Linked DNA regions of Homo sapiens. The protein of the gene in region 1 purifies or fractionates together with the protein of each later gene. This does not show direct contact. Each region holds a gene or a part of one and is shown on either strand. Other genes may lie near its edges.

Evidence for each region. The genes of interacting proteins can lie anywhere in the genome.
Region 2: the proteins of IQCF2 (region 1) and SUGP2 purify together in Homo sapiens (affinity purification with mass spectrometry; one large-scale study listed by BioGRID and IntAct). This does not show direct contact.
Region 3: the proteins of IQCF2 (region 1) and TRAFD1 purify together in Homo sapiens (affinity purification with mass spectrometry; one large-scale study listed by BioGRID and IntAct). This does not show direct contact.

What each region holds. Positions count from the first base shown.
Region 1 is NC_000003.12:51,859,754-51,864,883, forward strand, and holds IQCF2 (IQ domain-containing protein F2), read left to right. Parts: upstream 1-1,861; 5' UTR 1,862-1,913; coding exon 1,914-1,931; intron 1,932-2,104; coding exon 2,105-2,197; intron 2,198-3,233; coding exon 3,234-3,617; 3' UTR 3,618-3,671; downstream 3,672-5,130.
Region 2 is NC_000019.10:19,023,253-19,027,017, reverse strand, and holds part of SUGP2 (SURP and G-patch domain-containing protein 2), read left to right. Parts: intron 1-791; coding exon 792-2,399; intron 2,400-3,765. UniProt on the Homo sapiens protein: May play a role in mRNA splicing.
Region 3 is NC_000012.12:112,124,217-112,128,624, reverse strand, and holds the start of TRAFD1 (TRAF-type zinc finger domain-containing protein 1), read right to left. Parts: upstream 3,066-4,408; 5' UTR 3,007-3,065; exon of another isoform or gene 2,476-3,006; intron 1-2,475. UniProt on the Homo sapiens protein: Negative feedback regulator that controls excessive innate immune responses. Regulates both Toll-like receptor 4 (TLR4) and DDX58/RIG1-like helicases (RLH) pathways.

The sequences.
Region 1 (5,130 bases):
CCAAATTGATCTACAGATTTAGCATAATCCCTATCAGAATTCAGCTGACTTCTTTTGCAGAAATTGACAAGCTGGTTCTAAAATTCATATGGAAAGTCAAGGGATTCAGAATAGCCAAAGCAATCTTGAAAAAGAAAAACAAAGTGGGAGGGCTCACACTTCCTGATTTCAAAACTTACTACGAAGCTACAGTAATCAAACTGGTTTGGTACAGGCACAAACACAGACATATAGGTCAGTGAAATAGAATAGAGAGTCTGAAAGAAACCCATATATCTATGGTCAATTTAGTTTTGACAAGGGTGCCAAGTCCATTCAATGGGAAAACAATTGTCTTTTTGACAAATTATGCCAGAACAACTCGACATCCACATGTAAAAGAATGAATTTGAACCTAGCCTCACTCCATACACAAAACTTAAAATGGATCAAAGATCTAAATGTAAGAGCTAAAGCTATAAAACTCTTAGAATTTTAAATCGGCCAGGTATGGTGGTTCACACCTGTAATCCCAGCACTTTGGGAAGCTGAGGTGGGAGAATCACTTGAGCCCAGGAGTTTGAGACCAGCCCAATCAACATAGTGAGACCCCATATCTTAATAAATACATACTTTAAAAAATAAAAGAACAAAAAAATGAAAAAAATAAATAGCCAGGCATGGTGGTGTGTGCCTGTAGTCCCAGCTACTCAGGAGGCTGAGGTGGGAGGATCACCTGAGTCCAGGAAGGTCAAGCCTGCAGTGAGCCAAAGTTGCACCACTGCACTCCAGCCTGGACAACAGAGTGACACCCTATCTCCAAAAAAGAAAAAGAGAGAAAGAAAATCATTTTCTCTTAGTGTTCAAATTTGTCACCATCAATATTTCCTTGTATTTATTTAAATTTCCCTGTGGCTATTTCACCTTTTTCATTCCACTTCATTCTCTTGATTACCCAGGTTGGTAAACTGTGTATCTTTAAAACTGGTCTTGTCAGAATACTGCCTTTTAAATTTATTTTCCACTACCCATCTTTGTTTTCTATGCATTAATTTAAGTTTTGATCTTTATTTGACTGCTTTCCAGATTCATCTGGTGTATCTTTTTCTAGTTTCCTAAGGCTTTGTGAGGCACCGAGTCAAGGGAAGAGAGGAAGTGCTAAATCTCACCAGACGCTAGAGAGTGATATGGGGATGCACCGTCATGGTCCTCCCTGCTTTGCCATGCTGATGATAATGAGAAGGGACTGTGGATGGACTTCACATGAGGAGAGCCCTGCTATGGAATGGCACTCAAGTGCTCTATTTTTCCACCCTCAGCTCTGACACATCTCTGACAGGAGGCAAGCAGACACATGGTACTGAGGAGAGAGGCCATTTCTCTTACTGTCTCCTGTCTCTGAAGAGAATGAGGAAGTAAAAGCTGAAGAACAACAGGAATGAAGTCAGTGGCAAGACCAACTGGTGCCACTGACCAGACCTGAGATTGAAAGATTAACCCTCCCCACCCCCAACTCTAACCACATGTGCTCTCAATCTATCACAACACTTTCACATGGACCCCTTAGAGTTGAAAGCCCTAAAAAGGGCCAGGTTTCACATGGACCCCTTAGAGTTGAAAGCCCTTTAAAGGGCCAGGAACTCTTTCTTTAGGGAGCTCGGTTCTTGAGATGCAAGTCGGCCAATGCTCCCGGGGGAATAAAGCCTCTTCCTTCTTTAACCCAGTGTCTGAGGGGTTTTGTCTGCAGCTCATCCTGCTACAGTACAAGTTCCCCTGGAGTTTGTTTCTGACAGAGACACATCTCTGTGGCAGATGTCCCAATCCCTATGTCATAATGCAATTGTGAATTCAGAGCTCTCTCCTCACTCACGTTACTCATGCCAGACCTTGGGAAGCAGAGAAATCAGGGCTAATGAACCATCTAAGGACAGGCCATGAGGGTTCGATTTTGTGTAAGAGACATGGCCAGATCTATTAGGTGGACCAGGAATGGGTGGGTATCTCCCTGGGCTTTACAGGACTTGAGAAAAGAGAGGATGTTAAAGTAGTAATTGTCTTTGTATAGAGCCATAGAGAGAAACAGTCTTAACTCATTTATGTACTTCCCATTTAATTCTGATGACAGACCAAAGGCAATTTAATTTTGGTTATAATTGAGGATGTTGAAGAAAGCATTGAATGGAAGACATTGCAGAAGAAGAAACAGCAGAAAATCAAGGTGAGAAGAATTCCATGTACTTAAGAGAAATCCAGAACATTTATAACTACATCATAAGGTGTAGGACTTTGCCTCTTATCAATCCAGGGTCTAATTAGGAGTCAACTCAATGTTGGCTCATTTTTCCTCCATTCTCTTCTCAGTCTGGGCTGTCTGGATCTGGGCCTGACTGAGATATTGAGAGTGATTGGAAAGAATGAAAGCCTTGGGAGGCCGAGACAGGCAGATCATGAGGTCAGGAGATTGAGACCATCCTGGCTAACACGGTGAAACCCCATCTCTACTAAAAATACAAAAAATTAGCCGGGTGTGGTGGTGAGTGCCTGTAGTCCCAGCTATGCTACTCAGGAGGCTGAGGCAGGAGAATGGGTGAACCCGAGAAGCGGAGCTTGCAGTGAGCCAAGATCACGCCACTGCACTCCAGCCTGGGCAACAGAGCGAGACTCCTTCTCAAAAAAAAAAAAAAAAAAAAGAATGAAAGCCATCAAGAAATGCATAAGGCTGAGAGGTGAGAATGTGAGAACTTGGAATTAGAGAGTAGACTGTTCAAAATATGGAAAGACTTGGAGTAGAATATGTGGTCAGGGTATTGAAAACCTACCATAGTATCAAAATATGGTCATAGCAGACAGAAATCAGCCAGTGGTGGTTTGGGGCTGGAATTAGCAGATAATTACCAGGCAGAAGGTTATGAGGCCTTTCCAAACCCAGTGAGCACCAAAGAGGTGAGTGTGACTAACAAGGTCCCACACATCCCTATTGCACCCTTCTAGTTACTAATGGTTTTTCCCTTGATCCATGCACTGCAGAAATAGTCTGCAGAAGAACTCTGTGACTCTAAGATTGAAGTGATGTGCCCACAGTGGCAGAGGAAGGTCACCACCAGGTCTGATGGCTCCTAGTCAGTGTCCTGCTAACTTCCCTGAATTCTGAGGAAGGGCTGTGTTTTGAGAGAGAAAATCCAGGCTCCTTCCAGGAAGATCCTAGAAGTTGGTGGCAGGAAGTTTTCTGACTGATCGCTCTTGTCTCTGCCTAGGAAAAACTTAGAATAAGAACAAAAGCAGCTGTAAAGATCCAGGCCTGGTGGCGGGGCACCCTGGTGCGCAGGACACTGCTGCATGCAGCCCTCAGGGCCTGGATAATTCAGTGCTGGTGGCGGATGACGCTGTCGAGGGTGCTGGAGAAGAAACGGCAGGCAGCTCTGATCGCCTACGCAACCAGAGAGAGGGCAGTGATCAAGCTCCAGTCTTTGGTCCGTATGTGGCGTGTCCGCTGGCGATACTGCCAGGTGCTCAATGCCATCTACATCATCCAGGGCCACTGGCAATGCCACAACTGCCAGACCTGCGCTCTCCTCCAGGGCCACTGTGTGGTCACAGCCACTCACCTGCAGTTCCACATTGAGATCATCAACTCCTAAGGGCTGGCAAGAAGGGCACTGTGTCTACTGTCCCTATTAAAGGTCTAACCTGGTCTGGTGTGTCTCATGGGCTCCCCCAGCTAATGGGATTCTTGAGACTTGGACCTTGCTGCCTCCTCTTCTCCCTGAGAAAGAATTTCAGTGAGGTTTGCCCCCTGTGTCCAAGGACCCTGTTTTGGACTGACAATGGCCATAGGAAGCCCCAGTCTGCTCTGATATATGACAGAGCCAGAAATCCCAGTTCCCATCCCCAGCCTTATTTTCTTCTCACCGGGGGATCTGGGAGGCAGTTGGGCTCCATCTTCCTGAAGATTCTGGGCACCTCTGCACATATGGATGGACTATTGGGCCCTGCTCTGTCAACCTAGAATCAAGGTCGGCTGGGGTTTGGGATGCCTCAGTTTCCTCTTTGGCAAGCACCTAGATGGAAAGGCAATATTTGGCTGATTCTCCTGGGAGCAATGTAGTGCAGCCCCAGGTGAAGGATAAGAGGCTGGCCTTACTGGTAGGTGGGGCTGGGGCTAGGCATGCTAATGATTAGGTGGTGACCCTAAGGACTAGTGGAAAACAGAAGTTTACAGAAGTTCATCTTTTCTCTACAATTTCCTCACTAGAACTCGTCTCCCCAAGGGCCAGGTGACAAACAGGGCTCCCTCTGATATTACCCCCACCCCTACTCTTATCTCAATTATTGGTGATTTTATCATTGGTCAAGATGACCCTACAATCTCCTCCATTCTAACCTCAAACCTTTTCTGCTCTTCTCCTCAGCTATTCACTCCCACAGTCATACCAAAACAATGCTATTCTATGGAACTTCTGTGATGATGGAAATCTCTCTCTATGCTGTCCAACATAGTAGCCACTAGCCACATATAGTTGTGGTGCACCTGAAATGTGCCTAGTGCAACTGAGGAGTTGAATTTTTTATTTTATTTAAATTTAAATAATCATTGGACAATGATGCTCTAGACCTCATCATCACCAATAATTGTACTATTGCTCAAATTGCTTTTTCTAATTTTCCATTCTTTGATTACTTTCTTCTTTCAGTTCACCTTTTCAATAACCCCAATATTTCTTCAGATATGATAAGGTCTTCCAGTTTATTGATGCTATCATTTTTTTACAGCCACCACCCCTGACATGCTCTTGCATGTTTCTTTACCTAGTGCAGATTCCATGGTTAATTATCATCTCTCCCCTGCACTACCTCACTTCCTTGGCCCACTTTCTTTCTGCAAACATGTATGAGATGAAGGCAACCGTCTCCCTGTTCCATGCCTACAGAATAAGGGAACATGGCTGGGACAAAACCAACAACCATGAGGCATGGTCTTCATTTATATTCATGACCACATATATCAACTGGACTAATTTCCCAATGAATTTATTTAGTATGTTTGCATTTATATTTTCCGAGTTGAATAATTTACACCACCTCCTCTCCAAATGTTTGTTATTTCGGTTGGAATAAATGGTGTCAGAAATGAAACCTGAAAAAGAACACTAT
Region 2 (3,765 bases), on another chromosome or scaffold:
TTGAGCCACTGTGCCTGGCCCATTTCCCCTTTTCTACATGGAGAAGGACAGAATTGGGCACTGTTCAGTTTCCATCATGGCCTCTCTTGATGTATCTTGTTAAGCTTCTGCCTTCCCTCCTGCCTGCCTCGGTCTGTGGTTTTTCAGCTCCAGAGAGAGGGTTGATTGGCCTGGCCGACCTTTCCGAGGGATGGGTTCAGCCAGCTTTGGGTCAGCTGTGGTGGGTGTGGTGTTAGCTATGGTTCCTCTAGCCTCACGGTGGCACTGTGGGCTGAGACTTCCTTCTAAGAGGCAGTGAAGGCAGGTAGCCTCAATAAAACCTGTCTGTTCTGAGATAGAAGTAGAAACACAGAAGTGCTCCAGTTGCAGTAAAAATATCCAGGTTATTTGGGGACCAAACACCCTTTCCTCAGACTAAAAGAGGGATTGTCAACCCAGATGGCTAGAGAGTAGGGGGATCTGAATGAGCGAGGGCTGTTGGTGCCAACTTAGAGAGTCTGTGTCTTGCCCGTCAGGCTGCTACTGCCCAGCCTGGGTTGACGTCATCAGGGCAAACTCAGGCTTGGTGCTTATAGGTCTTCTGTTTTAGTAAGTAGTCGATCCAGATTTTTAAGTGACACCACACGCATTTTAAATGTTGGCAGCAAATACAGATTGGCAAAAAGCACTGAGGTGTATAAAGCAGTTTTGCTGCCTGGTGATCCGTGGACTGTTTGTTTGCACTGTTTGCATTCTCTGGTCTAAAGTATCTTTTGGCTTCTTCTTTTTTTTTTTTGGATGGTTTATTTCAGATCTCTTAAGGGCAGTCCCAAGATCCAGAGCAGAGATGTATGATGACGTCCACAGCGATGGCAGATACTCCCTCAGTGGATCTGTAGCTCACTCTAGAGATGCCGGAAGAGAAGGCCTGAGAAGTGACGTATTTCCAGGGCCTTCCTTCAGATCAAGCAACCCTTCCATCAGTGATGACAGCTACTTTCGCAAAGAATGTGGCCGGGATCTGGAATTTTCTCACTCTGATTCTCGGGACCAGGTCATTGGCCACCGGAAATTGGGGCATTTCCGTTCTCAGGACTGGAAATTTGCGCTCCGTGGTTCTTGGGAACAAGACTTTGGCCATCCAGTTTCTCAAGAGTCCTCTTGGTCACAGGAGTATAGTTTTGGTCCCTCTGCAGTTTTGGGGGACTTTGGATCTTCCAGGCTGATTGAGAAAGAGTGTTTGGAGAAGGAGAGTCGGGATTATGACGTGGACCATCCTGGGGAGGCTGACTCTGTGCTTAGGGGCGGCAGTCAAGTCCAGGCCAGAGGTCGAGCTCTAAACATCGTTGACCAGGAAGGTTCCCTCCTAGGAAAGGGGGAGACTCAGGGCCTGCTCACAGCTAAGGGGGGTGTTGGGAAACTTGTCACATTGAGAAATGTGAGCACAAAAAAAATACCCACCGTGAATCGTATTACTCCCAAAACTCAGGGCACTAACCAAATCCAGAAAAACACTCCAAGTCCTGATGTGACCCTGGGGACAAACCCAGGGACAGAAGATATCCAGTTCCCCATTCAGAAGATCCCTCTGGGGCTGGATCTGAAGAATCTTCGGCTCCCCAGAAGAAAGATGAGCTTTGACATCATAGATAAGTCTGATGTTTTTTCAAGATTTGGGATAGAAATAATCAAATGGGCAGGATTCCACACCATAAAAGATGATATTAAATTTTCCCAACTTTTCCAGACTCTCTTTGAACTTGAAACAGAAACCTGTGCTAAAATGCTTGCCTCATTCAAATGTTCCTTAAAACCAGAGCACAGAGATTTTTGCTTTTTTACTATCAAATTTTTAAAGCACTCTGCTTTGAAAACACCCAGAGTTGATAATGAGTTTTTAAACATGCTTTTAGACAAAGGTGCTGTGAAGACCAAAAATTGCTTTTTTGAAATCATAAAGCCTTTTGACAAGTACATAATGAGACTTCAAGACCGGCTTCTGAAGAGTGTCACACCTTTGCTTATGGCCTGCAATGCCTACGAGCTAAGTGTCAAGATGAAGACCCTCAGTAACCCCCTGGACTTGGCTCTTGCCCTAGAAACCACCAACTCTCTCTGCCGGAAGTCTTTGGCCCTTTTGGGACAGACATTTTCCTTGGCCTCTTCTTTCCGGCAGGAGAAAATCTTAGAAGCTGTCGGCCTGCAAGATATAGCTCCCTCACCTGCTGCGTTTCCAAACTTCGAAGACTCCACTTTGTTTGGGCGAGAGTACATAGACCACCTGAAGGCCTGGCTAGTCAGCAGCGGATGTCCCCTCCAGGTTAAGAAAGCCGAACCAGAGCCGATGCGAGAGGAGGAGAAAATGATTCCTCCTACGAAACCTGAAATTCAGGCCAAGGCTCCAAGTAGTCTGAGTGATGGTAAGGAAATCAGCCAAAGTTTCTATTTGTTGTTTTTCGTGTTTCTTTGGTAATGTCTTTTATTCGAGATTTTTTTACACAGAAGTTCTTTAGCCAATTGGAAACATATCAGGATTTTAGTAGAAAACGCACATTGGCCAATATATGTCTGCCATTCATTCTGTGAATGTGTATTAGGAATCTGCTGTTTACCATAGAAGTCTTTAGACAGCCGGGTGTGGTGGCACATGCCTGTAATCCCAGCACTTTGGGAGGCTGAGGCGGCAGATCACTTAAGACCAAGAGTTTGAGACCAGCCTGGCCAACATGGTGAAACCCCATCTCTACTAAAAATACAAAAACTAGCCGGGTGTGGTGGCACGCACCTGAAATCCCAGCTACTCGGGAGGCTGAGTTAGGAGAATCCACTTGGACCTGGGAGGCGGAGGTTTCAGTGAGCTGAGATCACCCCACTGCACTCCAACCTGGGTGACAGAGCAAGACTCTGTCTCAGAAAAATAAAAATTTTTAGACATTTTTAGGTCAAATACCTCTCTGGGAATTTGGTAGAAAGCTGTGGCCATTGCCAGAAAAAATGCTCATCTATTCACGCACAATTTTACCTATATCATCCGGGGGATTCGTACCTTTCTGCAGCCAAGGTTAAGAACGCTTGTTCCTTTTTTTTTCTTTTTAACCTTTGAAAAAAAGAAGGGTTGACTTTCTTTCCTTGTTTTTGTTTTTTTGAGACAGGGTCGTGCTCTGTCACCCAGGCTGGAGTGCAGTGGCATGACCATGGCTCACTGCAGCCCCGACCTCCTAGGCTCAAGTGATCCTTCCGCCTCAGCCTCCTGAGTAGCTGGGACTATAGGCATGTACCACCATGCCTGGCTAACTTTTTTTGTATTTTTTTGTAGAGAATCATGTTGCCCAGACTGGTCTCGAACTCCTGAGCTCAAGTGATCTACCTGCCTCAGCCTCCCAAAGTGCTGGGATTATAGGTGTGAGTCACTGCACCTGGCCTGGAACCCTTGTTCCAACATGTCCCCACAAGGTATTACTAGAAGGGAGAAAAGACACAGAGCACTGTCTCTGAGGAATCCCCAGGCTCCTGAGGGAAGAAAATCACAAAGACCAGTCACTTGTGAGCCAGGGGTGGTAGCATATGTCTGAAATCCCAGCTACTTGGGAGGCTGAGGAGGGAGGATTGCTTGAGGCCAGGAGTTCAAGGCTGCAGTGACCTATGATTGCATCTGTGAATAGCCACCGCACTCCAGCCTGGGCTAGAATCACCCTGTCTCTCAATAAACCAAAACAAAAAAACAGTCACCCCTGTGCTAGAATTAAAGCGACACAGGAGAGGCTCCAGTCTAGCCTGGAAAGTTGG
Region 3 (4,408 bases), on another chromosome or scaffold:
AGAAGGTACATGATGTCAACAGTCTTATTTTACTATTGATGTAAACCATGATCACATAGTTGATATGGTGTCTGCCAAATTTCTTCACTATAAAGTTTCTCCTGCTTTTTAAACAAGATGTCAATGCAGAAAGCAAAGCACTGGCAACTTTACTACCATTGTTTAGTTTAGATTATTCCTTTCCATGATACAAAAATGGTCTTAAATCCTGCCCCCAGTAGGGTTCTTTAAAGGTTTTGGCATTATCAAGCGAGTTGCCACTTTTCAAAACATGTATTTAGTCATTTGTTCAACATGCTTAATTAAGACAATACTTTGAGGCTGGGTCCAGTGGCTCATGCCTGTAATCCCAGCACTTTGGGAGGCTGAGGTGGGCGGATCACTTGAGGTCAGGAGTTCAAGACCAGCCTGGCCAGCATGGCGAAACACCTCTCTACTAAAAATAAAAAAATTAGCCGGGTGCCTGTAGTCCCAGCTACTAGGGAGGCTGAAGCAGAATTGCTTGAACCCGGGAGGTGGAGGTTGCAGTAAGCCAGGATCACACCACTGCACCCCAGCCTGGGCAACAGAGTGAGCCTCTGTCTCAAAAAATAAAAATAAAAAAAAAAAGGACAATACTGTGGGCCAGGTGCAGTGTCTCACACCTGTAATCCCAGCACTCTGGAAGGCTGGGGTGGGTGGATCACTTGAGCTCAGGAGTTCAAGGCCAGCCAGGAAACATAGTAAGACCCTGCCTTTATAAAAAATAAGCAGCCGGGTGCGGTGGTTCATGCCTGTAATCCCAGCACTTTGGGAGGCCGAGACAGGTGGATCACAAGGTCAGGAGATCGAGACCATCCTGCCTAACATGGTGAAACCCAGTCTCTACTAAAAAGAGCTTGCAGTGAGCCGAGATCACGCCACTGCACTCCAGCCTGGGCGACAGAGCGAGACTCCCTCTCAAAAAAAACAAAAAACAAAAAAGCAAAAAATTAGGTGGGTATGGTGGCACATGCCTGTAATCTCAGCTACTTGGGAGGCTGGGGTGGGAGGCTGAGGTAGTCCCAGCTACTTGGGAGGCTTGAGCCCAGGAGGTCGAGGCTACAGTGAGTGAGTTGTGATCACACCACTGCACTCCAGCCGGGGTGACAGAGTGAGACCCTGTCTCAAAGAAAAAGAAGACCATACTGTGTGCCACTGTGCCCTGGCACTAAAAATACTTTACAAAATAAGGAAATATAGTCTCTGATAAAGCGATTTAGTGGTAGAGAAAAACAATAAGCAAAAAAATACATATAACTTGAGTATTGTGATGGAAAAGTATACTGACAAATAAATGGGGGCGGAATAGAGGCAAATCTACTTTAGGTAGATAAGAGTGGTCAGGGAAGAACTTTCTGGGGAGACGACATTTAAATTAAGAACTGAAGTACAAGAGCCAACCACGAAAAGACAAAGATAGAGGATGGGAATGCGGGGAAATCCATCCAGGCAGTGGGAAGGGCAAAAGGCCTAAAAGCAATGAAAGAGAAAGTAAAGGCAGATCTGGAAGAGCATAATAAAAAAGGGGAATGACTCAAGAAGGTCTTGTCATATCAGACAGAAAGAATATTGGATTCGATTCCAAGCTCAATGGTAAACCACTGAAGGGCTTTAAACTAGGGAATGACATAATTCAAGACACCCATTCTGGGCTGGGCGCAGCAGCTCACGCCTGTAATCCCAGCACTTTGGGAGGGCGAGGTGGGCAGATCACTGGAGGTCTGGGGTTCGAGACCAGCCTGGCCAACATGGCAAAACCAAGTCTCTACTAAAAATACAAAAATTAGTTGGGCGTGGTGACGGGCGCTTGTATCCCAGCTACTCAGGAGGCTGAGGCAAGAGAATCACTTAAACCCAGGAGGCGGAGGCTGCAGTGAGCTGAGATCTCGCCACTGCACTCCAACCTGAACAACAGAAGGTGACTCCATCTCAAAAAAAAAAAAAGATATTCACTCTGATATGAAATGGCAACTAAGGAAGGCTGTCCGACTGATTTCAGGTGTGCTCTATTCCAGCCCACTCTGGCCAACTCTAAGGCCAGAGCTCAGATGTAGCAGGTGCTTGCTTTTCTAGATGCAAGGAGACTGGGGGTAGCCTGCAGGGTCCCCCTCTGGGGGTCAAGGTCTGGCTGGTTCTGCCAGATTTAACCTCTCTGGGCCTCAGATTCTTCAGGCAGAGGACTGACAATACTTCAAAGGGTCAAGGAAACGGGCGAATGCACGGAAGAGTTGAGGCACAGAAAAGTCTTCAAGCTTATAAGGAGCCTGTTGGGGGTCAGCTAGATCTCTCTAGTCCGCAGAGGGGACCGTCCCTCTGCCCGAGGCGGCGGAGCTTCCCCTGCCGGGTCCAGATACCCCAAGGCAGTTTCCAATCGCCCCCGTCCCCAGGAAGGTCGGTGATGGGGAGTGAAGAAGTAAGCGGCTTCTCAAATAATAGCAGTTGCCAAACGCTTACCGGGAAAATCTTTTAATCCCGACTACAATCCTAAGAGGTGAAAGTCTTGGTCCCCACTTTAGAGGCTACGAAAGCGGAAGGCCACCTGAGTTTTCCACAGCACCAGCGGGTCGGAGTGCGAGCTCGGACTCGGGTCCTTCGGCTTCGAGGCCGCATTAGGCCACTCGCGACCCCCCACGCCGGCAGCTCGAGGCTCGGACTCTAGGCCCAGGCCGGCACTGAGCCCAGCTCCGCCCGGGACGCGGTGGTCACAGCGGCGCTGCGAACGACGCCCGCTTCCCGGCTCACCAGACCAACCTAGGCCGCGAAGGGGGCGGCGTCGCCGGGGGCTGCCAAGGCGCCGGTTCCCTGAGGAGAAAGCGCGGCCTCCTCCAGGTGCCTGAGATGCCGCCGCGCGGGCATCCTCTCCTCACAGCCGCGACCCCGGGCCCAGAGACCCCTCGCCCACACACCCCTCCCTTGGGATGCTGGACCCTTCCTAAACTGGAGGCCACAGGGGATCTCCAGCCGCGTGCCGCCGCTACACCTCACCAGGGACGAGAGGAGAAACGCTGAGTTGACACACTAGCTGCAGACACGGAGCCTCCTCTGTCAGACCCCGCACTGAACAACGGCCCTCAGAGCTGCCTCACCACTTCCGCCCATCGCGGAGGAGCGCGCCCATTGGCCAGGGGCGGCTCCAGCTGTCGGCCCATTGGATAACACCGTTGTCGCTCCCAGGGCCCCGCCTTCTGCGCGTCGATTGGCTCCCTGGAGGCCCACGGGGGCGTGTCCCTGGAAGCCCTGGCCCCTGCACATCTGGAACCAGAGGCACGAAGCTGAGCTGTGAGCCTGTTGCTGAGTTTAGCAACTGTCCCCGACACAGGCTAATAATATTTGCATGAATAATTCTGTACAAACATTACTAATATGCTTAATATATTGAGATAATTAATGGTATTTGTTCTTTTCTCATGGGCCGTTAATACTTATTAGTCATTCTTATTGCTATGATAATGCCCTTGTGCAAGACTTCTGCAGATCTGTGACCATATTTTTTGAGCACTTTGCTTTTTTGCAGTGGAAGAATGAGAGCCTGAGATGCAGGTTTGAGAGCTAGTTTCTCCACTTGCTGCCTGAATGGATTCCCTGAGCTTCTCTTACCTCATGTATAATAAAGGAGAGAATAATTATATAAGTATAACCAAGCACATATTACAAACCAACTTATAATTATATAAGTATAACCAAGCACATATTACAAACAATACAGCAATTTAAAATTATGATTCCATTGCAGATTATAATTGCAAAATATGGAGGCCAAGGCGGGTGGATCTCTTGAGCTCAGGAATTAGAGACCAGCCTGGGCAATATAATGAAACCATATCTCTACAAAAAAAATACAAAAATTAGCCAGGCGTGGTGGCACGCACCTGTAGTTCCACCTCCTTGGGAGGCTGAGGTGGAAGGATCCCTCGAGCCCAGGAGGCAGGGCTGGAGTGAGCCCTGATCATGCTACCGCACTCCAGCCTGGGGGACAGAGAAAGACCCCGTCTCAAAAATAATATAATATAATATAATATAATATAATATAATATAATATAATATAATTGCAAAATGTTAATGAGATAGTACTAAGCAAGAAAAGCATCTAACAGGCTGGGCGCGGTGGCTCACGCCTGTAATGCCAACACTTTGGGAGGCAGAGGCTGGTGGATCACCTGAGGTCAGGAGTTCAAGACCAGCCTGGCCAACATGGTGAAACACCGTTTCTACTAAAAATACAAAAATTAGCTGGCCGTGGTGGCAGGCGCCTATGATCCCAGCTACTTGGGAGGCTGAGACAGGAGAATCGCTTGAACCCAGGAGGTGAAGGTTGCAGTGAGCCGAGATTGAGCCACTGCACTCCAGCCTGGGCAACAAAATCAAAACTCCGTCTCAAAGCAATATT